Homo sapiens: one gene and its partners. The protein of the gene in region 1 interacts with the protein of each later gene in a biochemical or structural test. Each region holds a gene or a part of one and is shown in the gene's direction. Other genes may lie near its edges. The genes, in order: ITGB7, RGS12, GULP1 and ANKS1B.

Region 1 (8,531 bases):
ACCATGGTGCACATCTGTAGTTCCAGCTACTCAGGAGGCTGAGGCAGAAAGATCAGTTGAGGCCAGAAGTTGGAAGCTGCAGTGAGCTATGATTGTACCTGTGAATAGCCACTGCAGTCCAGCCTGGGTAACCCAGCAAGACCCTGCCTCTAAAACAACAACAACAACAACAACACAACAAAAAAAACCTGTAACATATACAGTGTACTTAGAATTGTGCTGAATTAAAAATTCCATTCTGCAGTTGCAGTAGTCACATTTCAGATTGCCACATGTGGCCAATGACTACTGTATTCCTATCATTGCAAAGTTCTATTGGACAGTCCAGGCTTAGAAGGATGTCTGGAACATAGTGTTTGATAAATATTAGCTGTGGTAATAAATGTTATTAAGAGAACAGGACTAGGAACAAGTGACAAGCTCTGGACATTCGAGAGTGGGGTACTTGGGGAGTGGGGTTGGAAGTTGTGTGCATTGCGCTCGCTGAAGAGACAGCCTGAAAGAATGGGATGAATGGGCAGCAAGCCTGGTAGAGAAGGCCAGGTAGAGGTTCCAGGCAGAGGAGTGGCACCCAGGAAGCCTAGTGAGAAGAGGATGAGCTGGGGACGGAGAGGTGGTGGGCCTGTGCTGGGCGCCCCCTAGGGGAGTCAGGGGCAGTTGAGAAAGGTTAGGGAGATGGCCTTAAGGGCCATGTGCCTCTGTCCTCCTGAGCCTCTCTCTTTCTCTCTCCATTGTAGGAGCTGAAAGGGCCATTACTCTGAAGATGGAGATTCCAGGCCCGATGCCTCCCTTAATCCGAGAGATGCTGGAGAACCCTGAAATGTTTGAGGATGACTCCTCGCAGCCTGGTCCCCACCCCAATGCCTCTAGCGAGGATGAGGTTCCTGGGGGCCAGGGCAAAGGGGGCCTGAAGTCCCCAGCCTGACCAGGGCCCCTGACCTCCCCGCTGTGGGGGTTGGGGCTTCAGGCAGCAGACTGACCATCTCCCAGACCGCCAGTGACTGGGGGAGGACCTGCTCTGCCCTCTCCCCACCCCTTCCAATGAGCTCCTTGTTTTTGCCAAAGTTTCTAGGGGTGCCTCTGTGTTCATCCCCTTCCTGATCTAACCGGCTCCCTCGCCAGTCCCGGGGGCCTGCCCTGCTCCCACCAGGAGAGAGGGCAAAGGGATGAGCCTGGGTTTGGACTCTAAAATCTCAGCACTGCCCCATGGGTCCTAGACTTCCCAGGGCAAGAGGAAGACCCTGCCATTCCACAGCCCCTTCCTCTGCCAGGTGCTTGGCTCTCTGAGAGCAAACAGGAACACTAGAGACCAAAAAGGGGACAAAGGAGAAGGGCTGAGCCCACCTTCTTGCTCCTACCCTTGGTGCCTAATGCTGTGTGATGCACCTGCAGGGTGTGTGCTAGCCTCTGTGCCCCGTCCTTGTGCCAGGTCAAGGTGGGGGCAGGCTGGGCCCTGCATTTCTGGGGCAGGAACAGAGGGTGAAAGGGACAGATAGATGCAGGTCCATTCTGCACCTCTTGGCTCGGGTGCAGAGTTCACCCTGTGCCCTCCGTTATAAGTCCCTCCCCCAGCCCTGTCATGTGCCTTGGGCTCCTCCTGCCCTCCATCTCAGCCATTGGGGCAGGGACCCTCCTACACTACAGAGGGGCCAGGGGATCCCTCTCTCCCTAGTGCCTTCCACCCTTTACTCCCCAGAGCAGCTTGGCCCAGGGAGGGGGGATGCTGCTTAGCTGATCCCGCCCTGACCCAGAGGAAGCCTCTATTTATTTATTAGCTTTTGTTTACACCGTGGAATTGACCCCTTCCTCCAGGGGTCTTGGGTGGGGGAGCCCAGGGCCCCTGTGACCCCTCCTTTCTTCCTCCAATCCCCAGTTTGTATTTAGCTGCCAAATAAGATTCCCATTGGCTCCCTGTGTTCTCTTGGGGGGTCAGGGTGCTGTCCCCTCCCCTCTGTTTACATCTCCCCTCTACCCCGCTGTATCGCATATTGCTGAGTTTTCTATTTTTGCAAAATAAAGTGATGGAAACTCATGAGATGTGGCTCCCTTTAGGAGGTGGTAGGGAAATGACCAGCTGACCTGGTGAGGGAGCTGAGTGAGGAGGGAAAGCTTGTAATTGATTGGACTTTGCAGCTTTCTTGGTAGAAGAAAACAGGATGAAGTGTGCCTGGATTGTGGTGGGGACAGGATGGGGGAAAGGGAGCCCATGGGGACTCACCCTGAGTGACCGGGTTTCCCACAACCACCAGGTGTGGGTTCAGAATCTCACTCTGTCGCCCATGCTGGAGTGCAGTGGTGTGATCTCGGCTTACTGTAACCTCCACTTCCCAGGTTCAAGCAATTCTCTTGCCTCAGCCTCCCGAGTAGCTGCAATTACAGGGGTGCACCACCACGCCCAGCTAATTTTTTTTATTTTTAGTAGAGACAGGTTTCGCCATGTTGGCCAGGCTGGTCTCGAACTCCTGACCTCAGGTGATCCGCCTGCCTTGGACTCCCAAAGTGCTGGGATTACAGGCGTGAGCCACTGCGTCTAGCTTGGTGTGGGTTCTTATGTTGGATCCTGTGGATCTCTGGGAGGGCATGAATGGACTTCAGAGGTCTGTAAGCCTGTCTCCACCTCCAGTTATGCATATGTGCATATCTGCTTTTCTCTGGGGAAGGAGTCCATTGAAGTTTTATTTATCTTTTTGTTTTTCATTTTTTTTCTTGAGACGGAATTTCACTCCTGTTGCCCAGTCTGGAGTGCAGTGGTGTGATCTTGGCTCACTGCAACTTCTGCCTCCCGGGTTCAAGCGATTCTCCTGCCTCAGCCTCCCAAGTAGCTGGGATTACAGGGGCGCACCACCATGCTCAGCTAATTTTTGTATTTTTAGTAGAGATGGGGTTTCACCATGTTGGCTAGGCTGGTCTCGAACTCCTGACCTCAAGTGATCCACCTACTTCAGCCTCCCAAAGTGTTGAGATTACAGGCGTGAGCCACCATGCCTGCCCTGAAGTTTCATTTAGTTCTCATGAGGGCTCCTGGCCCCAGAAGAGAAGAAGCCCGCATCTAAGCTACAGTGTTACTGTTTTACACCAGCCCCTCACCCAGGGAGCCCTCTGGCCTTCTGTCCCCAACCACCCTGCTATCACCTTATACCTTACTCCCCCCACCCTCTCTGTTCCCACTCTTCACCCCATGACCTCCACTCACTGCCACCTGCACTGTTACCTTCTTTCCGAATATCTGTCCTTGCTCCCACACGCCTTCCCTCTGCAACACGCCTTTGCAGTGCCTTTGGCCTCTACTGCTGCACCCTGTACTCTTCCCTTCGCCCTCTGTGACTCCCCTCAAGCCCCTCCTCCGTGTCCTACCTTCCCTGGGACAGTGCCTTGCCTACCTTGTTCCTGGCTCTCTTCATTGGTGACCTGTGGTTATGACAAAAAAGTTGAGGATGTGGGAGTAGGGGAGAGAAGAGTGGAGGGCGGAAAGCAGAAGAAGAAAGTGAAAGAAGCTCTAGAGGAAACCACAGGGCCTGTGGGGAAGGAGGGTCATTGCCGTGGTAACCCCTGGTTGTGGGGGAAGGGTATAGGTCCTGGCTATCCCATAGCCTGAGGCCAGCCAAGCCCACCCAGAGAAAGAGCCCCTCCTCTCCAATTGTCCCCTCCTAGCAGCTACACCTCTGCAATCCATCTGACATTTATTGAGCACCTACTATAAGATGGGCACTTGGCTAGGTGTGGTGGCTCCAGCAGGGAAGCCTTGTAGAGCCAGTCCCTGCCTACAAGGAGTGCTCCTTCTGGTAGGGGAGATCGACCTGTGAACACAGACCTCATGTCTAGTTCCCTCTCAAAGCTCTTAGTGATCTGTATGGGCCAGGAGCAAATCCCATTAATATTTTCCTGCTCTCCCTACGGGCTTCATCCTTGCCTTGGCTTCAGCTGTTGTTCCTGCACTCTCTGCTTCTCCCAGTTCACCTCCTCCACCCCTTTCCCAGGATCCACTACTGTGTTGGCTCCTGGTTCCCCAATCACATGCTCTGAGCCTGGCCCTATGCCTCTCTCTTCCAAGTTTCCAGTTGTGTGGACCTTGAATTTCTCAAAGCCTCTTCACTTCTCACCTCTGCTACTTCTCATCCCTACTAATTCTCTTATCAAGCCCTTACTTAGTATGTGCCAGGTAGTCTTGTAGGCAATTGATATGAATTATCTCTTTTAATTCTCACGACAATCCTGTGAGTCTTGCTGGACAGATGAGAAAACAGCTGCAGGCAGGTTTAAGTAACTCAGCTAAGCTCCTTACTACTAGTAAGTAGTAGAGCCAGGATTTGAACTCTAGCAACTTGGCTCCAGAGCCTATGTAGTCAAGCACACTTATATAATGTATCCTGGGTTTTCAAAATGAACAAGTCTGTAATTTCTGGCCTCTCTACAGTACTTACTGCCCCTATTCCCTCCTATCATGTTCCTTCCTATATAAGTAAATGGAGAGATCATGAATTTTGGAGGCAGGCAGACCTGGATTTAAATCCCAGACCAGCCGAGTGTGCCTGTAATCCCAGCTACTCAGGAGGCCAAAGTGGGAGGATTGCTTGAGTCCAGGAGTTACAGACCAGCCTGGGCAACACAGCAAGACCCTGTCTCAAAAATAAAAAACAGGCTGGGCATGGTGGCCCACACCTGTAATCCCAGCACTTTGGGAGGCCGAGGTGGGCAGATCAATTGAGGTCAAGAGTTTGAGACCAGCCTGGCCAACATGGTGAAACCCCGTCTCTATTAAGAATATAAAACGTTGCTGGGCATGGTAGTGCACCCCTGTAATCCCAGCTATTCGGGAGGCTGAGGCAGGAGAATCGCTTGAACCTGGGAGGCGGAGTTTGCAGTGAGCTGAGATTGTGCCATGGGACAGTGAGCTGAGATTGTGCCTGGGAAACAGAGCAAGACCCTGTCTCAAAAGTTAAATTAAATTAAAATAAAAAAAATAAAATAATAAAAATTTAAAATAAAAATCTTTTTTCTTTTTTTTTTTTAAATCCTAGACTAGCTACTTACTAGCTGTGGGACCTTGGGCAAAATTCTTTATTTCCTGCTTCCAAGCCTCAATCTCTGCATCTGTAAAATTGGGGCTTGGGGGAATATTAACCCCTATCTTATGAGATTGTTGTGAGGGTTAATTGTAATATGTTACGTTCAACACATGACAGGGGTTCAATAAATGGGCTTCTTTCTTCCAGATCTCTGTATTGTCCACTCCCTTGGCTCAGCCCCACCCCTATCTGCACCACCTTCTAGATCAGTCACCCCCACCAACCCCAAATCTTCCCCACCCTGGGGAGTGTCACTTCCTCCTCTGCCGTCTCCCAGATCAGTACACAAAGGCTGCTGCTGCCGCCAGAGGAAGGACTGCTCTGCACGCACCTGTGAGTACCAGGGCACCAGCCCTTCTGCCTCCTCTCCTTACAAGCTCTGGCCCACCTGGTCCCAACCTCTTGGGAAGAGGGCTCTGACCTGGATACCGAGGGTCCTGTCCAGACTTGAGAAAGGCTCTGAACTCCTTTCTGCATTCCTAAGATCCCCTGACCTGGTTCCCTCCTCCAGTTTCACAGTACCCCCACCTCCACCTCTCCAAAAGCCCAATCTCTCCTGCATCAGTTTCCCATGAGTGGGTCTGGAGGCAGGGATGTATATGAGTGCTGTCATCTGAGTGCCTGCCATGTGCCAAGGACTATACCGAAGTAGGGCAGGTATACCGATTATACTGAGGGAGGGTTCTTCCAACATCACCCCCAGCTGCTATCCCTAATGCTCTGCCTTCAGCTCAGACTTCTTCCTAATCGGCACCTTGGTCACAGACTCCACTGTCCTGGGACACTGAGGCCCAGCAGCTCAGTTCCGTCCCCTCCTTGTGACTCCCAGTGGGCAGCAGAGGGTTCTGCTTGATTTGGAAGGTAGGGATGGGTTTGGAAGAGGCTCTGTTTCTCAGCTGCTGAGGGGGGTCACAGGGTGTGTACTGGAGTCAGAATGGAGTCCAGAAAAATGGAAATAACCACTTGGTCCCAGAGAGAGAAGGGAAGACTGCAGAATACCCCTAAGGAAAGAGAAATGGGATTAGGCAGAGCCCACCAGGGCTAGTGGGGAGAGAACACAACTTTTGATGGAGATAGTGCCTGGGTTGGAGGGAGGAAAGGAGAAAGCACAGCAGAGGCCTGGCCCTGCCCTGTCCTGCCCTGCCCCTAGTTCACTGGGTGACCCTGGCCTCATGGAATTTAGGTTTCCATTTGTAAAAAGAGTGGGATGGAGTAGTAGATTCAGCCATTCTATAGTTAGGAACAGAGGGGAAAAGGAAGTAAAATAGCCCTATGAAGAAGTGGAGCAGAGAAAAGCAGCAGAGAGATGCAATAGAAGTTTTGAAATGAAAGGAGCCAGAGAGAGACAGAGAAGCAGACAGAGAAATAGGTGGCAGAACATGTATTCTCAAGGAGGGGAGAAGAGAGGATAATTGGAAAGAAAGGTAGGAAAGGGCTGTCCAGGAAGTCCCAGGGCCCCCTTTAAGGGGAGATGAGTGGGCCTAAGGTCTCTGAAAAACCTATGCGGCAGCCGGGGCTCCACTTGTGAGAGATGAGTCAAAACCCGGCTTTGGGTTGCAGCATCTCCAGCCTCCCTGACCACAGGCATGCAGAGCAAGCAGGGCTGAGGTTACGCTGAGGCTGAGCTGGGACTGGCCTCTCCCCGAGGGGTGGAGGCTCCGTTATATATGGCGCCTGAGGTCACAGGTGGTGGGGAGCAGGACCAGGACATTCAAGGACTCAACACCCCACCCCTTTCCCACACTCTGTGCAGAGTATCTGGACCTGACTCTGGGCCCAGGCTGAAGAAGATGCAAATGGTTTATGACAAGGAGTTAGTTGGCCTTTCTCATACATTGCTGATGGGAATGTGGACCAGTACAAGTCCTGAAGAGTTTATGTTGGCAATACCCACCTATATATATATATTTCTTAGCATGAGAATGTAGATGAAATACACACCAGTATTACAAATGATACCTATCTAGTTATCCTGCACGTCCTCTGCTAGGGATTTATCCTACAGATTCAGTTGCAGACGTGTGAAATGATAAATACATGACATTTGGCTGGGGGTGATGGCTCACGCCTGTAATCACGGCAATTTGGGAGGCCGAGGCAGGTGGGTCGCTTGAGCTCAGGAGTTCTAGACCAGCCTGGGCAACATGGGGAAGCCCCATCTCTGCAAAATAATACAAAAATAATTAGCCAGACATGGTAGCATGCGCCTGTAGTACCAGCTACTCGGGAGGCTGAGGTGGAAGGATCAATTGAGCCGGCAAGGTCAAGGCAGCAGTGAGCCATGATTGCACCAGTACACTACAGCCGGGTGACAGAGCAAGACCCTATCTCTCAAATGAATAAATAAATAAATACATACATTACTTTTCATTTCAGCATTATTTGTCATAGGGAACTAGAAACAATTTAAGGCCAGGCACAGTGGCTCATGCCTGTAATTCCAGCACTTTGGGAGGCCGAGGTGGGTGGATCACTTGAAGTCAGGGGTTCGAGACCAGCCTGGCCAACATAGTGAAACTCTGTCTCTACTAAAAACACAAAAATTAGCTGGGTGTGGTGGCTCACACCTGTAATCCCAGCTACTCAGGAGGATGAGGCACACGACTCACTTGAACCCAGGAGGCAGAGGTTGTACATCACGCCACTGCATTCCAGCCTGGTCGACAGAGTGGGACTCTGCCAAAAAAAAAAAAAAAAAAAAGGTAAAGAAAAAAGAAACAAAGATAGTAGTAAATGATATTTATTTAGGGTAGGTGTGGGAACTGGGTATGGCATATGGAGTAGGAGATTTCTCACCATCTTATTTAACTTTTTGATTTTTAAAATGGTAAGATACACAAACATTTATCATTTTTACCCCTTTTAAGTGTACAATTCAGTGGCATTAAGTACATTCACTAATTCCAGAACTTATTCATCACCCTAAAATGAAACTGCCCATTAAGCAGTCATTCCCCACTTCCCCTTCTCCCAAGCTCTGGTAACCACTAATCTACCTTCTGTCTCTGTGGATTTTTCTAGTTTGGATATGTTCCATATGTGGAATCATACAATATGTGACCTTTCATGAATGGTTTTGTTCACTGAGCATGTTTTCAAGGTTCATCCATGTTGTAGCATGTATGTATCAGTACTTCATTTTTTTTTTTTTTTTGAGACCGAGTTTTGCTCTTGTTGCCCAGGCTGGAATGAAATGGCACAATCTCGGCTCACTGCAACCTCCGCCTCCTGGGTTCAAGCGATTTTCCTGCCTCAGCCTCCCAAGTAGCTAGGGTTACAGGAGACCACCACCATGCCTGGATAATTTTTGTATTTTTAGTAGATATGGGGTTTCACCATGTTGGTATGGCTGGTTTTGAACTCCTGATCTCAAGTGATCCACCCGCCTCGGCCTCCCAAAGTGCTGGGATTACAGTCGTGAGCCACTGTGCCCAGACCCATTTCATTGCTTTTTATGGCCAAATA
Region 2 (5,072 bases), on another chromosome or scaffold:
CCTCCTCCCCTGAAGTGTCTGCCTTCCACCTGAAGTTCCAGCCAGGTCTTGCAGAGTGGAAGTCTCAGGCCTGCAAGTGACTGTGACCTGGCCTACCCCCATGTTCCCTCCAGGACTGGCCACCTGTGCCCATCTCAGCCCGCACTGCTGGAGCTCCGGCTTGAAGCCCCTCCCTGGGGTCTGCCACATGCACTCCTGTGCCCTCAGTCACCCCCACTCCCCTATTCCCCACTCCCCTATTCCCCACTCACCACACTGTGCACCCTGCTGGGCGCTGTCCACTCCCTCGCCAATGCCCAGCAAATATTTGAGGAGCTCTATCCCAGCCCCAGCCCATCACACACAGTCATGATCCTGGCTGGGGACCCACACGGACAGGGGGACCTTGGGGGGGTCACACTCTGGAACTAAGGTTCTGGGGGTGCTCTCGTTCCCATGGGGGCCCATCAGCAGGAGTGCACAGGCCTTAGCAGGAGCCCGTGGGGTGCGCTGTGGTGGGAAGGCTGGGAAGGGAAGGGGCCTTGGGAGCCACAGTGGATTGTAGGGTCCCCGCCTCTGGCTCCCCTCGCTCCCCCCTTCCTGCCGTGTTCTCAGTGTGAGCCGGCTCAGCCTTGCCTGGGTGTCCTTGTGCCCTGCGAGCTTCCAAGGGGCGCTGGGGAGGCTTCACAGAGGAGGTGGCTGCGCTTGGCAGCACAGATGATGTGGAGCATGGAGGCAGAGGCTGAGCAAAGTGCCTGGGGGACGGGGTCCCTCGGGGGGCAGGAAGGGCGGGCAGTGGGAGAGGTGCCAGGCCTGGGTCTCGAAGGAGAGCCTGGGAGAGTTCAGGCCATGCCCCTGCCCCGGCCAGGCCAGTGCAGCCCCTGCTCCCGCTGTGCCTGCCAGGGTTCCTGACTCAGCTTTGAGGACCAGGGTGGGGCGGGGTCCTGCCCCAGGCCTAGGCCAGAGCAGCTGGCAGTGGCTGGCACAGAGACATTCATGGACAAGTGTCTGGGAGGCCTGGGGGCGACCGGCAGCCGGTGAGGGGCCTGCGCATGTGGAAAGAGGGGCCTTCCTGCTGCATCTTGTGGGGCCTCCAGCAGGACCCCCTCCTGGGAAGGCTGGACAGCACAGTCGGAGCCGGCAGGACCAGCCAGCCGAGGGCAGGGAGCCGTGGGGCGCCGGGGAGAGGTTCACAGGTGGCCCAAGCGGCAGGGAACAAGATCCCAGTGTGGCCTCAGGTCTGGATGTTTGGAGATGTGGCACCAGGAGTGAGACCAGGAGGCCAGGCCCCTCTGGAGGTGGTGCAGGCTCTGCTGGGTCCTCTGTGTTGCCATCCCTGCCAGGGAAATGCTGGGCAAGAAGGTGCTCCCCGGGCAGGCCCTGGCATGTAGGTGGTGAGGCAGCGTGCTGCTCAGGGCGGGGCCAGGCAGCTGAGTCACAGGCCTGGGGCTGGCTGCCCTGCACAGGAGGGCGAGGCTGGCTCCCGTAGGCAGGAAGGGCCTGGCTGTGGCCCCCTCCTTGTGATGTGGACATCCTTGGTCCATACAGAGCTGTCCTGTCTCCAGAAACAAGTGTTTCTCCATCCTGAGCACACTAGCTTCCTGGGGCCCTCAGGGGCCTGTCCTCCCATCTGTCCATGTGGGGCTGGCGGGGTAGAGCCGGGCTTCTGGACATGTGTGGTGTTGCAGGCCCCTTCAGAGCCCTATGAACACTCCAGGCAAATGCCCAAATGCCCACGGTATTGACCGGCGAGAGGGGGCAAACCCCTGCCTCTCCCCACACGATATCTCCCAGCCCTGCAGCCTGGCATCTGGAGCCATGCGGACCTGGTGACAAGAAGGAGATGGGCAGAACTGTCCCCTTGTCCCCTGGGGGCAGGGCTAGCTCCTAGCCCTGGCAGAACCTAGTAGGACACTTGTTGAATGAGCAGAGGCCTGACTGGGAGAAGTTTCTAGTCTCAGCTGCTCCACATGGACCCCTGGGCCTCCAGATGGCATCTCCACCGGGCCTGGCTGAGTAAGACACACAGGCCCCACACAGCTCCCACATGCTGGCTGGGCTGCTGCGTCGAGGCCAGGATGAGGGCCTCTGGGGCCACTGCTGGGACCTGTTCAAGAGAACGGGCTGGGCACGCTCAAGAGGGGAGTCACACCTTCCGCCCGCAGCCCGGACTTGTTCACAGATGCCTCATGGAGGCTGCTTCCGGAAGCTTGGACTGAGGGTGAGGAGGGGCACGCTGGGATTGGGGACCTTGGTGGCCACGGAGCCGCTGGGGCAGCAAGGACCCTGCGGCCATTTCAGGGACCTCAGAACTGTAGATCGAGGAGGGTCTTCACCTTCCCAGGCCTTCGATTCACCTGTGGAGGGCAGCAGTTGGTAGCAGGGACCCCCTGTCCCTGGTTCTCATGTGCCGGGGGCTGGCTCTTCCTGCCTCCTGTCTGCTGTGGGCCCAGGCCTGGGGCTCCTGCCACCCCATAGGCGCCTCAAGGCCTCCACCCTGGCATGGACATGACTGTCTCAGGGCCTCAGCCCCAGGCTCACTGAGGAAGGGAGCTCCTGGACCCCTGCCTAGGAGACACGCTAGGTACGCAGGAACCTGCCCCCGAAGCCTGCTCCTCTGGGTCGGCAACGTCACCCCCACCGCACAGATGGGGGGGTGGGGTCACTGGGCGGGTCGGCAACGTCACCCCCACCGTACAGATGGGGGGGTGGGGTCAGTGGGCGGGAAGGGCTGGGCTCTCCCAGCACGGGGGCTTCACTGCCCCTTCCCAGGCCCTGGGGTCCTGCCATGGAGCTCCGGGCGGCACATGAACCCAGCCATTCTGCGTGCACCGTTCACTTTCCTTGGCCCCAGCCTTCGTTGGCCCCTGGGGACTCCACCCTGGCATAGACACAACTGTGTCTTCCAGGGGTCCACGTGGAGGTCACCAGATGTGGCAGGGCAGTGACGCCCTGGGTAGGGAGGCCTCCCGGGGGTGCTGGCAAGGAGATGGCCTGCCCATGTTGGGTCTAGAAGCTTCCAAGGCCGGTTCAGGCAGCCGGGATCTCCTGGGGCTGGAGTGGGCATTGGAGCCAGAAGTGGGGCAAGAGTCACTGACCAGCCGGAAAGAGGGGCCTCAGTAGGGGGGCCAGGGATGGAGGGGGAGGGGACACGACCGGGAGGCCCAGAGCAGGGTGTGTACGGTGAAGACGGTGCTGAGGCAGCGAGGCAGGTGGGCGAGCAGGTGGCCAGCCTGGCAGGGTGGGATGGGGCAGCAGACACAGGGCTCAGGGCCCGTTCCACCAGGCCAAGAGGGTCCAGCCTATCTGGAACTGAACCCTAGTGCTCAGCCCCCTGGGGGTGGCCCTTGAGGATGGGCCCTGGGCCTGGGGGGGCCCCTGAGGACGCCCCCAGGAGGAATTAGGGGGGCAGTTGGGGCGGGGGCTCTGCCGGGGGCCCAGCTCTGTTCCTGAGCTGCAGTGGGGAAGCAGGGTGGTAGGGTTTCTGAGTGGGTCGGCTCCCCCACTTGGTGGCAGGTGTTATGTGGAGGGCTCTGGGAACACTGCACCTCCCCTGGGCGTACCTGCCCCAGCCTGGAGGCCCACAGCGGGACGCCAGCTGCCTCTGGGATGTGTTTGGGATATTTCAGGGACCCCTACCATGCTGTCTGTGCAGGGGCCTTCGGGGTAGGGGGTGGGTTCCGGGGGCCCAGGGCCGGGCCAGGCAAGTGACAGCTTCTCTTCTCCTTGTGACAGGAAGTGGGACCCATGGCAGCCGAGACCTCCCAGTCAACAGAATCATCGATGTGGATCTTGTAACTGGCTCGGCGCCCGGGCGGGATGGTGGCATAGCGGGGGCACAGGCTGGCCCTGGGAGGTCGCAGGCCAGTGGTGGGCCTCCTACATCAGACCTCCCTGGCTTGGGCCCCGTCCCGGGTGAGCCTGCTAAGCCCAAGACCAGCGCTCACCACGCCACCTTCGTCTGAGCTGCCCTGGCCTGGCCAACTCTCCTGTGGACATGTCGGGGTGGGGCAGCCCAGGTGGATTCTGTGGGCCTCAGGGGGGCCACCCTGGCCACCACACCCTCAGGAGCCCAGCCAGGAGGGCAGGGGGTGACCTCGCTGGAGGCACTGGCCCCGGACATTCGCCATGCTGGCCATGGGGCTCCCTGGCCCTGGCCTCCTGCTGCCCAATAAAGCATTTCTGAGGACCCAAGCGTCGGCCTGGTGCTGGGTGCTGGGGACACAGACTCCTCGTTCTCGGGGACTCCGAGCACATCCCCAGGAGGTCATGCAGGAAACAGAGGGGCCTGAGGAGGAGAAGTGCCCCAGGGTAAGGTCAAGGGGGCTTTGAGGAGAGGGAAGCTTGGCTCCTGGGGCCTGAGGGCCAGGACCAGATGGCAGAGACTGGCTCTCGCCGTCACGTGGGGACCCTGCCCCAGCCTTGTTTAGCAGGGTGGTCTGAGGGCCTTTCTGGGGAGGGACCATGTAAACTGCAACTGGACGGCAGAGGAAGTCTAGAAAGAGCCCTGGGCCTGTGCCAAGGCCCTGGGGCTAAGGAGGGTCTGATTACAGAAAGGGAACCAGGTGTGGCTGCAGGGGAGGCCGGGGCCTTGGGGGCTGGGTTGAGTCGGAAGAGGCAGGGCCATTCCCCAGGTTGCCTTGATGGAACCCCTAAAGCCAAGTACCCTCGGTACAGGGTGGTTGGTGAGCTCCTCAGACCATCCTAGAGGCCCGAGAGCACAGCCAGTCCCCTGGGGCTGTTCTAGAAGCTTCCAGGGAGTGGATGCACCCCACTTAGTGGTGCTCTAGGAAGGGGGCTGGGGGAGGGGTCGGAATGGAAGATGAAGCCCAGTGCCAGCTGTGTGTACCACCCACCACAAGCCCGCATCCATCCTGCTCCCAGCACCCACCATGCCTCCACATTCACCGTGCCCCCAGGGCCCACCATGACCTCCCCCCCAACCCCCAACCCCCCATTCACCGTGCCCCCAGCACCCACCATGCCTCCACATTCACCGTGCCCCCAGGGCCCACCATGACCTCCCCCCCAACCCCCAACCCCCCATTCACCGTGCCCCAGGGCCCACCATGACCTCCCCCCCAACCCCCAAC
Region 3 (8,270 bases), on another chromosome or scaffold:
ACATATGATAAAAATTACTGCTAAAATCACTGGACAAAGAATGGATCTATTCAATATGTGGTGTTGGACACCTAGGTCATTATTCTGGGGGAAACAAAAGCCCTATCTTTAGATTTCACATCAGAATAAATTGAAAAACGAAAACTACAAAATACTAGAAGAAAATATTGCTAATTAGTTTGGGTGAAATGTCATTATATTTTTTAAAAACTCAAGAAATCATAAACCGATTACATTTAAAGAAATTCTACATAGTTTTAAAATAGAACAAAATAATTTAATTATTTTAATTAAGTTAATAAGACAAATACCCGTTTTTTGGCTAGAGGTTAATATATTTACCTCATACAGAACCTTTAAAAATCAATAAGAAAAAGAAAAAATATATGAAACAATAGAGAAAAGAGAAAAATGTACAGAATATATAAATAGCCACCTCACAAAAGAAAATATAAACGGTTATTAACTTTATGAAAACTTATTCAGTTTTATTAACAGTGAAAGTAATAAAAATTAAAGCGATTGAGCTGCTAATTTTTCACTAAGATTATTTGAAAATTTAAGTGTTTGGAGAAAAAAAATTAAGGGCCAAGATGGAATAGTTTACATGATGTCATTTAGGTAAACGAAAAATGCATATGAAAATAAATATTTTGAAAGAATACTTACAAAAAAGTAGTAGTATGGGCCGGGCGCAGTGTCTCACGCCTGTAAGCCCAGCACTTTGGGAGGCCGAGGCGGGCGGATGACGAGGTCAGGAGATCAAGACCATTCTGGCTACGGTGAAACCCCGTCTCTACTAAAAATAAAAAATAAAATAAAATAAAAAAATTAGCCGGGAGTGGTGGCGCGGCGCCTGTAGTTCCAGCTACTCAGGAGGCTGAGGCAGGAAAATGGCGTGAACCCGGGAGGCGGAGCTTGCCGTGAGCCGAGATCGCGCCACTGCACTCCAGCCTGGGCGACAGAGGGAGACTCCGTCTCAAAAAAAAAAAAAAAAAAAAAAAAAAAAGGAGTAGTATGTACGTTATACTTCCACATGAAAAAAATGGAAAGAAAATTGTTAAGTGTCTGTGGGTGCTGGGTAATGCCTTTCCTCTACTCCTGGTTTCCATGCAAAAATATTTTACTGGGTCTTTACTTACTTGCCCTTGGAGAGATGTTATGACATTTGGTAGATAAACTTAGGAATAAACTTGGGAAGAATTGCTGGGCATGCCAGGCTCAACTACCTTTCTCTCTCTTTCATTCTTTGGAATAGAACTCAAAAAACAATTTAAATCCTTTTTCAAAGGCACTGTCTCCTTTCAGGTTAGAAGGAGGCCAGGAACTACGTTGACTGAGGCTGCTGTTTCAGTTCTTTGCTTTTGGATCTACCAATTCAAATCCGTTATCTGTCAATCATAGAGTAATATTTTGCTCTCATTTTTTTGGTCAATTTATTCCCCACCCAGGCATAAAGAAGGGATACTATTTATCCGGGTCTCTCAGAGGCCTCAACAAACCTTGGAGCATATAGAGAAAATGTGAGCAATAGGTACTTTTGGTGATGGGAATACAGGTGATATTTATTTCCCTTTTGCAGTTGCCCTCCTATTTTTTTTTCTTTTTTTGCAATGGTCATGTTTCATGTTCTTAATCAAGAAGATCAAAATAAAGCGATTCTTTCAGAATGACAGATAAAATGATAGAGGTTTGAAGGTAAATGTAACACAGTAACTTTGGAACCCAGAGCCCCTAGGAACTCATAGGATATTTGGCCACTGTTACACATGACAAACAGAAACATGACCCCCTTTCAAATCACATGACTGAAATTTGAATTTCAGTCTTGGTTTTCATTACAGTTTTTAAAAAGTTGTCAAATACTTTAAATGTTGGTTTTGCAGAAATATAGGGCTAAACAACCAGCATATTTTTTGTGTGCTTTTGCAATAATCAGAAATAAAATTGGTTTTCTTAAGGTAAGTAACAGGTCGTTTTTTTGTCTTAGCCAAAGTTCCCTTAGTTAGGGTAAGAGAAACTTAATTCTGGTTTGAGCAAGAAAATTAATTTAAAAATACTGGAGGCCAGGCGTGGTGGCTCACACCTGTAATCCCAGCACTTTGGCAGGCCGAGGCGGGTGGATCACGAGGTCAGGAGATTGAGACCATCCTGGCTAGCAGAGTGAAATCTTGTCTCTACTAAAAATACAAAAAAAAAAAAAAAAAAAAAAAAAAATAGCCGGGCATGGTGGCGGCCGCCTGTAGTCCCAGCTACTCGGGCGGCTGAGGAAGGAGAACGGTGTGAACACGGAGGCGGAGCTTGCAGTGAGCCAAGATCGCACCACTGCACTCCAGCCTGGGCGACAAAGCAAGACTCCGCCTCAAAAAAAAAAAATAAATAAATAAATAAAAATAAAAATTACTGGAAAGCTGCTGAGTTTCTATCAGGGTCTATATGAACCTATGATGAATGTGAAGAACTTTCAAATGGAAATCTGAGGTATTTGCAGTAGGTAAAATTAGGCGTATTTGTCATCGTAGTGCCCTGCTAGGCTTCTGCAACCCTTTTCTTTGGCATCTCCCTTCTTCACTTCCTGGGGCATGCTATAAATTTGTTTTAAAATCTTGTTCCATTTGGTTCTATTGTTTTTAAAAACTTGGTTCTGACACTCTTGAGATTTTTATACCTCTAAGCCATTTCACAAAGAAGATCATATCAAAAGTCAGGTTATAAAAATTACAAAGCAATAGCAAGTTTAAAGACTTTAAACAGTGGGAGAAAATATAAAAGTGAGTAATCTTTAGCACTGTATGTAACGATTGGAAAAAGACAGTTATGAGGACTCATCTATCTTCATTTATCCATTCATGATGGATGTGCTTTGTAGCCATATTTTTTTTTCCCTCTTTAGGATCTTCCAAGTCTTATGGATAGGAAAGACAGATCTCTAAAGAGGCTATGATATGCCTTTAGGAAACTGAGGATGAGGCCGGAGTAGTAAATAACTCTTACTTAGAAGGAGTATATAGGGTCTCATCCCTGAGAACATGGGAGTTAGTTATGTAAATGTTCAGATGATTTTCAACATTGTATATGGTAAGGAAGAATTTTTTAAAAAGACCTTCTTACAGGTACTAGAGGCAAATGAATGAGAAATAAGTACATGCTATGGGATTTTCCATTATTTCACAGGATGGAAAGTTTGATCTCTGTAGCCTGATTTTGTTCTTTGGCCTTGAACTTGTTCAAGTTGAATTGTGTGTCCTGAACACTGATCTAGTTGTTCACAAACTAGGGTCAGCCAACTGTAGTGGTATGTTGATGTATTCTTGGGAATCGAGAGTTATTATAATCTTTTAATATTATGGCTAAAAAACCCAAAATATCTATGTGTAAATATATAATGTAAGCATGGATTCGTTCATCTCATCAACCTCCTTATTCCTAAATACTGGACTACCATTTGTTTTATTTTTATAATCACATTGATACCAAGTGATCATCTAAATGACATTATTTAATTTTTAATGATTGTTCATAAATTAATTGCTTAAGAGTTATTTACAGAAAAAAACTAGCATTTGTCCTGAGATTAATATTTTTAATATAATTATTTTTATGTGTGCTTGACTATTGTGATAAAGAGAAAAACAGTTAAAAGAGGACCCCAGCCAAGTTATTATGAGGACTGATTTCTGATATTAGCTTTAGTACCTCCAAACCATGAGATTTGGGGAAAGTCACTTAAGAGCCCTAGACTTCAGTTACCTTGTATTTAAAATAAGGGAGTTCAGCTGGAACTAGTTAATCTGTAAACATAGTTTCCATTTCAAAAATTGTGAAATGATGCCTTTTTAAATGGAAAAAGCATTAAGGAGAAGAAAACTGATTCAGTTACAGGGTCTTTGGGGGAAAATTTCTAGCACCACCCTCTCTCCTAATTACAGTAAAACATGGTGGGATATAAGAACCAAATATTTATTGAGTATTTTCTCTGCGCCTATCACAACTCTATTTTAACTCCTGTAAATGTGACTGTGACTCCGTGAGCTAGATTATAGAATTCCTGTTGACAGTTATAATTGGTAGGCACAGAAAGCGTAAAGATGGAGTTTGGAATGGAATCTGGCCTGTCTGACTCTAAGCCCTGGATCCACTGTAATACATTATAACTGCTAGCTTTGCAAAATGCCTTTTTCCTTTTCTCATCTATTTTCACACTCAAACTAAAATTTAGTAAACTAAATTCTGAGCAGCAGAAAAAATTTTAGTAAAGGTCCTCTCATCCTTGAAGAACTTCTTATATAAGGATACTCCTTCTTGCTCCCTTTCCCACGCAGAACTTTACCAAAGGTCAGTAAGAATGGGCTGTTGTGTTTTCTCTCAAATCCTATACAGAAGTCCTTAATTCCGAGGTAAACATCTGAATGGAACAAATGAGTATGATCTGGGGGTTAAGGCAATTTTCAAGTGTGTGTATGTGTGTGTCTGTTTTAAGGCATAACAAAGTCCAGAGATTAAGGCCGAGTTAAAAAACAAATGAGGACAAACCAATGAGGACAAACCAGTCCGCTGAGGTGCGGCCAGAGCAGCAGCAACTGTGGCTGCTTTCTTGATAAAGGCTGTGAAGACGGCACGTTTTACTCTTATTCGTGTATTTCTTTTGACACTTTACCCCTCTATGAAGCCTCAGAGGTGTTTTAAAATTGTGTTAGGAAACACACAGAGATAAGAAAAGGCAAATGGTCCTGATCTAGTGTCTCAGGGAAGAGGCTGGAAAGGAAACGCGGCGCGAGTGGGGTGGGAGAGGGGGCCTGTGGTTTTGCTTCTGTCCGGGCTGAAGACTGAGTAAGGTAGGGCCCCTCCTTCTGCGGATGGGTTTCTCTCTCATTCCACCCTCCACCCACCTCCGGTTCCGCGTGCACGCGCGAGATAGTCCAGTGGGCCCACAGATAACGACCATCAGAGATTAAAGAAGGAAAGTCAGCGAGCTTGAACACAGGCGTCCCGTGTGGAAATGTCCAAGGAGACCGCCAGAAGTGCGCAAGCCGGAGTCGGCTAGAGTTTCCTTCTCACCGAGAGGGGGAGCCCGGCGTTCCCGGCCGGGAGCGACCCGGAGTCCCCAGCCCCGCGTCCCAGCTGCCGCCAGCGCCAGTTTTGGATTCGGCGGATTAGGAAGAGGAGGGAGGGGGGAGAGAGCGCGAAGAGGGAGGGGACCGAAGCTGGAGGGTCCCGAGTCCAGCGCCGTGTTGGCGTAGAGAAACTTTCCCTCTCGGCCTCGGAGACGGCGCCCCGGCCGTGCCGGAGTGGAGATCGCCAGGCTCGGAGGAACCGGCAGCTCTCCACGCCCCTGCCCGAAGCCTGACCCGACTGCCTCTCTCAGTGAGGTACGGAGATTTATCTAGGCTCTTCCCTGGCTGCGAACCCAGGCTCCCTCCAGGTAGCGTGGAATCGCTTAGAAGCTGATATCCCGAGGGGCGGTGGGGGTGGACAGCTCCGGCCACCAGTGCCCGGGAAGGAGGGCGCGGGGCTGCGCGTAGCCGCTGGCCAGCAGGTTGTAAAAAATTAGGACAGCTAAATGCTCAGGGAGTCGTCCAGCACTAAAGGAGGCTAAGACCTGTTGACGCCTGCTATGGCAGCGCTTGAGAAATGACTGGGGGAGTCCAGCGAGGTCGGGGACGCAGCGGTCTCCGGGCTCCAGAAACCTCCTTAGCCTTTTGTGGTAACTTTGGTCCGGCGGCGGGGGGCCGGTGAGCAGGAACTGGAGGGAGGCGGTGGGGAAACCGTGGATCCGTCCGGCTGAGGGTGCGTGGATCAGACTGGGCTGAGCAGGCAAGTCATCGTCGGGTCACAGCGAGGCGACCCAGGAGCGAACTTCCAGGGCAGCCTCCCTTTTGTTGGCGCTGGGAGAGAATGTGGGCATGGGGGTGGGGAGGCGCGAAGCTCCGAGGCCGGGCCGCGGATACTTTAAAGCTCAGAGCTGGGAGGGCCCAAAGGAAGGGGCGGCGTCCACATGGTTACCCTTCTGCTGCGCGGGTCAAGTAGCTTCTTCTGGAGGGCGCAAGGCGCGGCGGGGGTGATGAGCCCTTGGGTTCTCGCTCCGACTGCTAAATTCGCTTGGCCGGGTCCACCTTCTCGTGGCCTCACTCGCCACACGGATCAGAATCCGGAGCAGGCAGTTCTCTCTATTCTGAGGCTCCTGCGGCTGCCGCGCTGACTTCCCTGTGTGCGGGAGGGAACTCTGGGCAGGCTGGTTTTCTTGGAATGTGTTTACGATGTTGAATGGGACTTGAACAGGAAGCTGGACGCTGCAGCTGGAACTAGCGTGCCAAGGTAGAGTAAGGAAGACTTAGCTGGTGTTGGGCTTGGCGGGTCCACTTGGTACGCTGGGCAAACTCCAAGTAAGTGAGGGCTGGCAGTCAAGGTACCCCTCCCTAGGTCCTAGTAGTGTTTCCCAACTGAGCTCGCCTTACTCATTTGCAATCAGACATTTTACATGCACTATTTCAATCTGCAAGTTTGACAAAGTGTAATGCAGTCAATTAGGAAGGATTTAATAAATTTATTTTGTGCCTGCTTTTAAAATACGTTACACCAACATTTGAGAATAAAAAGTTACGGAGAATGTTCAAGTCATGACTGATTTCTAGGACTAGCAGGAGACAATACTGATGATTTTGTGTCTGTATTACAAAATGGGTGATTAGGTGCTAAAGTAAGGGAGATTATTAGACAGAGTGAATGTGAGGAAGTGGAAAACTTTCAGAGGAATTGGAAATTCTTCAAATTTGCAAATTGCTCCCTTTCTCTGCCAGTCTTTCCCTTTTCCCCCCATATGAACAAGTAGCCTTGGCTGGAAAACCCACAAATTGGGAGAGTGCAGTCGCTGGTGACTACAGGCTTTGCTGGAAACAGCAGACAGGCTAAGGTACTGCCCCACTGCATAATTAAAGGTCTCCTTGAGCTGTCCAGGAGTGTTTTCCAAGTTTTTACGACTGACAAGGAAAAAAAGAGAGGAACCTGGCCGGCAGCCAAACTAGACTGAGCTCAGTAGCCAGGCATGAAAGAGACTGGGCAAGTTGCAGGGGCTAATTGGAAAGGGGCTGTCGGTTGCACTTGGGGTTTAAACAAGAGGTTTCTTTTGCAATGAGAATTTTTAGGTGGCTAAGATCAGTCTTCTTGGCAAAAAAATAAACTAAGCATAGAGTGCAGTTGGATATGACCGAGGAAATTACAAAAAGGGCTCCAGGAGCAAAGTCTGAACTTTCCTTATCAGTGTTGCAGTGGAATAGCTGGGGGCCTGATGCTGTTTGTGCTGATCATACTTTGCAAATGCCCACACTTTGTTGCTGTTTGTCTCCTTGGACGAGGTTTGCTGCAACTTCAATTCCTTGACTTCGGCCTTACTTTGTTTTCATAGCAGCAAGAATTGAAGACTTAAGGGTTTGAGCAGATGGTTTTCTACCTAAATTGAATAATTCAATTACGTATTCTCAGCTAGCATGGATTTGGGTCATGGAATTAAAGTAGAAACGTATCCGGCATGACTTCTTTGTGCTTATCAAAAGTGATCCTGATAAACAGATCTTGCTCTTTCATGTAAAGAAGTAAAAGGTGAGATGATCTCAGTATTTCACACATTTGCCCTTTACTGCTTCCTAATTCCAAACCAGCTAGGAACTCAAAGCCTTAACTGCAATTCAGACTCTTCTTTGTGTATTAAAGTTGTGTATGTTTCATCTCTCTTTTTTTTTTCTTCAGAGAGGTGGGTTGTAGGTTTACTATTGTGGGCTTAGGGGTTAAATGGTTAAAACAAACAAACAAACAAACAAACTAATGTGGTTTATATTTCCTCTGTATTTAAGAGTTTGAGATTGTGAATATTAGCCTGCTTTCTGAGACTCACTTTGTGAATCACCCTCAGCCAAATGTTTTCCCTGACTATGATTTCAGTTTTTCCACTTGCAAAGTAAAGAAACTTTCCTTTACATAATTACAAGATTATTGTGAGAATTAAAGAGATGAAATAATGTTAATAGGCTTTTCGACATAAAGGTCATAGGATTTCTGACTCAGCTGACTCAGTTGAGTTTATGGGGATAAAATAGGAATACTTCTATGTTGAATACCCATGTAATAATGACATATCTGGATCTAATTTATAAAAATTACCACTTTTACATTTTAATCATAGCTTTAATTTAATCATACATTTTAATTTTTGAGGATATAAGGGAGATTTTGTTATGGTTAAGGCTGAGTCATTTTCTCAAACAGAAAAGAACAAT
Region 4 (7,679 bases), about 47 Mb from region 1:
ATAGTGTCTGAAGAAAATGAGAGTTGAAATTGTATTCTTTGGGCAATCATTTGCATAAAATGACATTCCTAAGAAGGCACATTTTATTTAGTTGTCACTTTATTTCAAAAATGATTGTCATCAGAAATTTATTGGCAGGATAATGGAAAATGTGTCCCCCGTCAAACATAATGACACTTTGAAATTTCTTAATGTTTTAGAAGGAACTGTAGAATATGTTTGGCACTTTTTCCCCGCTTGCTTTATTACCTGGGTTGTGTAATAATGGTGTCAGACCCTATGCTAAGTGCTTACACGTGTCATCTCATTCAATTCTTGTGTCAGCCTTAGGAGGTCCATTGTCATTTCACAGATGAAGGAATAAAAAGATAAGATTAAGGACTTGCCCATGGTCACTTAATTAATAATGGCAAAGATTTGAAAATCTGTGATTCAGATTTGTTTTACAACATTTTAAGTCTCATTCATTGAATCTGTTTTATTCACAAAAGTTTAAAGGTATGTGGCCAATTTAGACAGGCCAATCTGAACATTTTTTGCTATGAAGAATAATTTGAAATTCCTTAAATTTTGGTATTTTTTTCTAATTAAAAAAATCTCACAACTGCCCTTTGAGGGTTCACTAGACAAGAACTTTTCTGAAGATGCTTCTGATTACTTGTTATCTACTGGTAATAAGAAATTATCCTTTCAACAGTAACTATGTAATGGGGAATCAGGTATGCTTTTGGGTGGCACTGCAATTTTCAGCAAATGTAAGAATGCCATTGAATAAATTTAAAAACCTCTCTAAGCCTCACTATTCTATCAGAGTGGAAATAGTAATAATAGTACCTATCATATAAGATCATTATAAGGATTAAATGAAGTATAAAGTAATGAATGCAAAACATTTAGCATATAGGTGTTCATCGTTAGTGTTAATATTTTTCATGCACCTCTAAAGCACTTGACTGTATTCTTTAAGGCCTTAATGACTAAAGATTTGCTTCCTATTGGACTGGGAGTAAATTTCCCATAGCAATCATAGAATCGTCAAATAAGGAGGGAACTTTCTTCCAACTTCTCACCTAGTGCGGAAATTTTCTCTGTAACATTTCTTACCTGTTAGTTATTCCAGCCCTGTTAAACCTTCCAATGACTAGATTCATTCTATTTTTGACAGCTGTAATTATTTTAAAATTTTTCTTTTCATTGAGCTAAAATCCACTTCCCTGTGACTTTCAGCAATTGGTAGTAGATTGGCTGTATGGGTCAATATAAAGCAGTCTAATTCATCTGCAGGATAGTTCTTTAGATGCATGTATTTTTGTTTTCTTATAAGTATTTTTCATGGAAGAGCTATCATCTCTGTTAACCTTTTATATGGCAAGACAGCATAGATGTTAAGAACTTAGTTTTCATACTTTTCTCTACTCTCTCTTTCCTTCTTTACATATTCTCAAATTTTGCAATGACCCTCTTAAAGTATGGTGACTAGAAATTCACAAAATGCAGTAGATGTCCCTTGACCAGAGTAGAACATTATGGCTGAATAAGAAAACCAAGGACAGCAGGTTACAAGAAGCATTTATAGTATGATCTTATTTTTGCAAGAAAAAATAAGTTTGTTTGAACACTTATAATGTGCTTAAGAAGTCTGGAATGATAAGATGCCAAAATGAAGATAGTATTCATCTTTGAGTGGTGGAATTGTGGTTGGGCTTTATTTTCAGTGTTCTGTAATGAATATGTATTATGTAATTAAAATAAAATAGCAGCTATTAAAACATGATACAATGAAATTATTATCTCTTTATTATTGATCTAAGACCTACCTACAGGTCAAGATTTTCTGGGCCATGTAATGGTGTTGGCTCATGTTGAACATACAGTCAATTAAAATTTCCTGGTATTTTTTTTTTTCAATGACCTGTGAAGCCAGGTCCCCTTTCTGGTACTTTTAAAAGTGTTGATTGAGCTTAAATTATTCCTGTTCCTTTTTATCTGATTTGTTTTATGTTGTATTTGTAATTTCTCTATATCTTTTTGACTCTTTTTTTTCTTCTTTCTGACTCTTGAGTCTGTCTTTCAGCGTATTAACTTCTCTCCCCTGTATCATCCAGAGATGTAATAAGCATGTTTTCTATAACCTAAATTCAACACACTGTGCTATATCCCCAAAGCACCTCTCTTCAACTTAGTATAAATTTAAAAGTAACAGTCTTTACTCATGGTATTTCTACCAGGATTGAAGCCACGCAATGACAATCAGCTATTTCTCTCCATTGTTCCTGTGAGAATATTGTGAGGTATTTTATCTACTGCCTTTCTAAATTCACACTGTATTTAAGTGTATGGCATTCTTTTGATCTATCCTTTAAATTCCATCAAAATCAGTCTACTTTATTATGGCTTGTTTCTGGCAGTGAGCCATTGGTAATTCCTAGTATTGGCAAAAATTCCTTCTACCCTCTTGCATCTAATTCTTCTGGGTCTGGATATGCATACTTATTTAAAGCAGCTTACTGTCCCTTATGGTCTCGTTTGGACCTTCAGTAATCTCCTGAAGTTATTTGTTTATCCCTTCTGATTTGAAAATGGTTCTCAATAGGGAAAATAGAAGCAAAATAAAAGTTGGGAAGAATTAGATTCTTGGCATTGTTAGATATCATAGAAAATTATCTTGTGGTTTAAAACTACCCACAGTTTTCCTTTTACTCTGCCAGAACTGAAGGTGAAATTAGTGAACTGTTACACCTCTTTTCTCTTTTTCAAACTTAGCTAAAAAGGACATTAGCATTTTTCCTGGACAAGTATATATTTCTTTTTTTGTGTTTGCTTGCAGTTATACCTCTTACTACCCCCTTTCATCCTTAAAGAAATCTGAGCTCATCAGAGCACTAAAATTGAGTTGCCTCCCTCCTTTTCTTCCTCTACATTTTATGTGAAATTTCAGTTTATTTAACATATCTTTTATGAGACAGCTGCAAAATCTTAAAAAAAAACCTCTCTTCCTTTGGCACAACTACCTTTTATTCTAAACAAAACTAATTTCCATTTAAAATGTATATTTAATTAATTTTTTGCTGAGTATAGGATAGAGAATTATTTGTATTTTAATACAGTGATAAAACTTTATTAATGCCTCAATTTATTTGATTTTCTTAATGCCTCGAAGAGTTGAGTTTTATATAAGGTGTATTTAGTAAATTCTTGTCAGAAATAAATAATACAGTTCTTAAGATCCCCATGTGAAAAAGTAGATCAATAAGAAGTGGAGCAAAACAATCTTCTGGTCACCAAAAACATAAAAACCAGAGAGCTTATAATTTTTCAGATTTAGGATTCAGCTCATGTCATTTTGGTGATGAATACAGGGAGATAACAGACAACTAGGAAGTACTGTAATTTTCACAACTATTTGGGCAATTGTGGTTATTGGGACCCTGATATAAGAAACTCACTTTCAGGGAAACTGCATTGGTTAAATGGAATAAATCACAAATAGAGCAGTTAAGCTCCATGAAAATGTTATATCTATAAAAATAGTCAAGTTGCAAGTGGGTTATCTATTTTAGATAGTAATGATGTTTGAAGTGGTGATTGCACCATTATGTTCAGGGAGCTGTATCTGCCAGAGTGAACAGTGCCAGCTGCATGATGGGGAGTAAGGAGAAAGGAGGGTGAATTTTGGTATTGACCTCTTTCTCCACTGAGCAGGGTTTTCAGCTCCCTTTTCAAAACACTGAGGGTGATGTGTAGCAGTGAACTAGGGCAGCCAGCCAGTGACTACTACTCAACCTGTCCATCCATTGCACAGTTTCTTGTGTGACTCGATTTCTTACAGATGACAAAGGCTGATGCAAGTCTTCACTGACATTAAGGCAGAAGCATATAATATTTATTAGTGCCTCTGCTGACTTTAGCAACTTAACCTTTCAGGTGACAGTAAACAATTTGATTAGTTCAGTTATATACTGAAATAATTTTGAGGTAATTTTGGAAAATTCTATCAGAAGCCTATGATAGAACATTATTCCTGAGTATTTAACTAGAAATGGAAGCTGACTATAATGCCAGACAAAGGTTAGAAAAGACTAATTTCAACCTATGGAACCTGAAGATATTTAACACTTAATGCATTTTAGAGTGTCTTTAGTTTCCGTTTTGGACATATTGCAGAATGATGTTAGTTAATTAAAATACAGTGAGTTTTTATTACTCATCATATGTTGATATGGGAGAATATTTTATATTTGAAAAAGGAATTTACAAAGAAGACGCTTCTATCTTCCAGTTCTTTCTCATGCATGTGAGGACATGGTTATGTAAGCCGTACGGGCAGGCAGAGGCACAATGCCAGTTGAAAACTCATTGAATTTTCTTGTGTAATACAGATCTAGAAACTTTTCTTAAGAGTCTACTTTTCTTCTTTGGTGTCAGTAGGATATCAAATACATTTTACATTTGTGTTAAATCTGGATGAGGCTTTTAATTGATATTTGAAGATGGATCAAAAAATATGACCAAAGGATAAATTTTGTTTTCCACAGTGCTATGATTTGAGTGTTGTCTCCAAAACTCATGTTGAAATTTATTTGTCATTGTGACAGTATGAAGAGATGGGATCTGTCTGGACGTGGTGGCTCACACCTGTAATCGCAGGCTTTGGGAGGCTGAGACGGGAGTATCACTTGAGGCCAGGGGTTCAAGAATAGCCTAGGCAACATAGTGAGACCCTGTCTCTATAAAAAACAAAACAAAACAAAATGGCCAGGTGTGGCATTGCACGTCTGTAGCCCCAACTACTTGAGAGGCTGGGTGGGGAGAATTGCTTGAACCCAGGAGTTTGAGGCTGCAGTGAGCAATGATCATGCCCCTGAACTCCAGCCTAGGTGACAGAGTGAGACCCTACTCAAAATAAAAACAAAACAAACAGGTGAGATCTTTTAGAGGTGATTAGGCCATGAGGGCTCTGCATGTATGAATGGATTAATGCCATTATTGTGGGAGTGGGTTAGGTGTCATGGGAGGCTCCTCACAAAATAATGAGTTCAGCCCAATTTCCTCTTTCTGTTGCCCATGCTTGCTTGCCCTTCTGCCTTCTGCCATGGGATGATGCAATAAGAAGGTCCTCACCAAATGCTGAGCAAATGCTAGTACCATGCTCTTTTACTTCCCAGCATCCAGAAATGTGAATCACAAAAACATACATTGTTTGTAAACTACCCAGTCTCAGGTACTCTCTTATAGGAACACAAAATAGACTAAGACACTCTGTTTCTTCTACTGCACTGTCCAGAGTGTTCATCTCTGAATCTGATTCTTATGAATCATGTTTCTTATTAAATGACATGTCTTCATGGATCTAGTTGTGAAATGGAACTTTGATTAAGCTGTGCAGTAGAGTTATTTGGATTCTATTGTGTTATGAGAGTAGCTTTATTTGAAGTGGTTAATCACTTCTAGTTAACTGAACTGAAACAAACTGCTTAGACTTGTTACCATTCTTTGATCAAATTGGATCAAATCTTGATTGATGGATGTGAGCATAAACAGCCAACCTCCTTTCCTGTTTCTATTTCCCACACCACATTCCCTTTAACCCTCCTCAATCACATCTCAGAAAAAAAGCGTTTTTTTCTAATTACTACAAGTTCACCCTGGCTCCAGTTTTTGTGCCAGCTGGCATCATCTCTAGATTCCAGCCTATCTGAATATTTAAAAAAAATTTTCAACAGATTTTAGATACAGGAAGTATGTATGTAGATTAGTTACATGGAAATATTGCATGACACTGAGGTTTGGAGCATGGATCCTGTCACCTAGGTAGTGAGCATAGTACCTAATAGGCTGTTTTTTAATCTACCCCCCTTCCACCCTCTAGTAGTCCACTGTGTCTTTCGTTCCCTTATTTATGTCCACATATGCTTTATATTTAGCTCCCACTTATAAGTGAGAACATGTGGTATTTGGTCTTCTGTTCCTGTGTTAATTTTCTTAGGATTATGGCCTCCAGCTCCATCCATGTTGCTGCAGAGGACATGGATTCATTCTTTTTTATGGCTACCTAGTATTCCATGGTGTATATGTACCACATTTTCTTGTCCAGTCTACCATTGATGGGCATCTAGATTGATTCCATGTCTTTGCTATTGTGCATAGCACAGCAATGAACATGAATGCATGTGTCTTTTTGGTAGAATGATTTATTTTCTTTTGGGTATATACACAGCAATGGGATTGCTGGGTCGAATGGTAGCAATTTTAGGTTCTTTGAGAAATCTCTGTACTACCTTCCACACTGACAGACAACCTACAGAATGGGAGAAGATATTTGCAATCTGTGTATCTGACAAAGGCCTAATATCCAGAAGCTATAGGGAACTTAAGTCAACAAGCAAAAAACAAGTAACTCTATTAAAAAATGAGTAAAGTACATGAACAGACATTTCTCAAAAGAAGACATACAAGTGGCCAACAAACATAAAAAATGCTCAGCATCACTAGTTATCAGAGAAATGCAAATCAAAACCACAGTGAGAGATAGCATCTCACACTAGTCAGAATGGCTGTTATTTAAAAGTCGAAAGACAATAGATGCTGGTGAGGCTGCAGAGGAAAGGGAATGCTTATACCTCAATGTTAATTTATCCTCTAACGTCATGGACCCAGTGCCTTTTCTTTCCTTTCTTTACCACCAAAAAGTGTTTGTGGGACCTGACAGTTAATTCATAGTGAAGTTGTAATTGATTGGTAAAGCTTTTAGAAAGAAGCAGCTCTTTTCGTATTTTCATTTAAAGAGGCAACAAAACATTAGGCCAAAATAGTAAAGCCATCGACCTCTTCTGGCAGAACAAATGGAGTGGATTTTGCCAGGCTCGTAAGAGAATGTTGGATACAGGTGGTAATTCTTCCATTTTTTTGGAGACAAGTTCTCACTCTGTCACCCAGGCCGGGGTGCTGTGGTGCAATCACAGCTTACTGCAGCCTCATTGCCCCCCAGGGTCAAGTGATTCTCATGTCTTAGACCCCAAGTAGCTGGGACTACCAGCATGTGCCACCATGCCCAACCAATTTTTTGATTTTTTTTTATAAGGACAGAGCCTCACTGTTCCTCAAACTCCTGCCATACATAGTGATTCTTCTGATGAATCTGTGCAAAGTAAATTGAAAACCTTCTGGAAAGGATTGACCATGCTAGACACCATTAAGAACATTTGTGGGCCAGGCACAGTGGCTCATGCCCGTAATCCCAGCTCTTTGGGAGGCCAAGGTAGGAGGATCACTTGAATCCAGGAGTTCAAGACCAACTTGGGCAACATAGGGAAACCCTGTCTGTTGGGGTCTGTTGTTGAGGGCTCAAGTGATCCTCCTGCCTTGCTGTTCTTGAACTCCTGGGTTGGTCTCGAACTCCTGGGATCAAGCCATCCTCCTGACTTGGCCTCCCAAAGTTCTGGGATTATAGGTGTGAACCACCATGCCTGGCTAATTCTTCCTTCTTAAAGGCTGAAGGGGAAGGGATTTGACTGGAGACATGAGAAATGAGAGAGTATATGGCTGGTGATAGAAAAGTATTTTCTTTTTGCTACTCATTTAGTCTCTAGAATTTTTTATTGGATTATATAAACCCATTTTAGATATAAACATATATTATTTGCCTATATCAGACGTTATTACTTAGATGTACAGGCATA

The links.
Region 2: the proteins of ITGB7 (region 1) and RGS12 form a complex in vitro, tested with the Homo sapiens proteins (one study listed by IntAct).
Region 3: the proteins of ITGB7 (region 1) and GULP1 form a complex in vitro, tested with the Homo sapiens proteins (one study listed by IntAct).
Region 4: the proteins of ITGB7 (region 1) and ANKS1B form a complex in vitro, tested with the Homo sapiens proteins (one study listed by IntAct).

The regions. Positions count from the first base shown.
Region 1 is NC_000012.12:53,204,070-53,212,600, reverse strand, and holds the start of ITGB7 (integrin beta-7 isoform a precursor), read left to right. Parts: upstream 1-5,349; 5' UTR 5,350-5,399; intron 5,400-5,796; exon of another isoform or gene 5,797-5,927; intron 5,928-8,531. Other genes in the region: RARG (retinoic acid receptor gamma), read left to right, coding at 738-925. UniProt on the Homo sapiens protein: Integrin ITGA4/ITGB7 (alpha-4/beta-7) (Peyer patches-specific homing receptor LPAM-1) is an adhesion molecule that mediates lymphocyte migration and homing to gut-associated lymphoid tissue (GALT).
Region 2 is NC_000004.12:3,435,741-3,440,812, forward strand, and holds the end of RGS12 (regulator of G-protein signaling 12), read left to right. Parts: intron 1-3,714; coding exon 3,715-3,944; 3' UTR 3,945-4,173; downstream 4,174-5,072. UniProt on the Homo sapiens protein: Regulates G protein-coupled receptor signaling cascades. Inhibits signal transduction by increasing the GTPase activity of G protein alpha subunits, thereby driving them into their inactive GDP-bound form.
Region 3 is NC_000002.12:188,286,798-188,295,067, forward strand, and holds the start of GULP1 (PTB domain-containing engulfment adapter protein 1), read left to right. Parts: upstream 1-5,076; 5' UTR 5,077-5,369; exon of another isoform or gene 5,370-5,814; intron 5,815-6,030; exon of another isoform or gene 6,031-6,383; intron 6,384-7,402; exon of another isoform or gene 7,403-7,596; intron 7,597-8,270. UniProt on the Homo sapiens protein: May function as an adapter protein. Required for efficient phagocytosis of apoptotic cells. Modulates cellular glycosphingolipid and cholesterol transport. May play a role in the internalization and endosomal trafficking of various LRP1 ligands, such as PSAP.
Region 4 is NC_000012.12:99,974,383-99,982,061, reverse strand, and holds part of ANKS1B (ankyrin repeat and sterile alpha motif domain-containing protein 1B), read left to right. Parts: intron 1-7,679. UniProt on the Homo sapiens protein: Isoform 2 may participate in the regulation of nucleoplasmic coilin protein interactions in neuronal and transformed cells. Isoform 3 can regulate global protein synthesis by altering nucleolar numbers.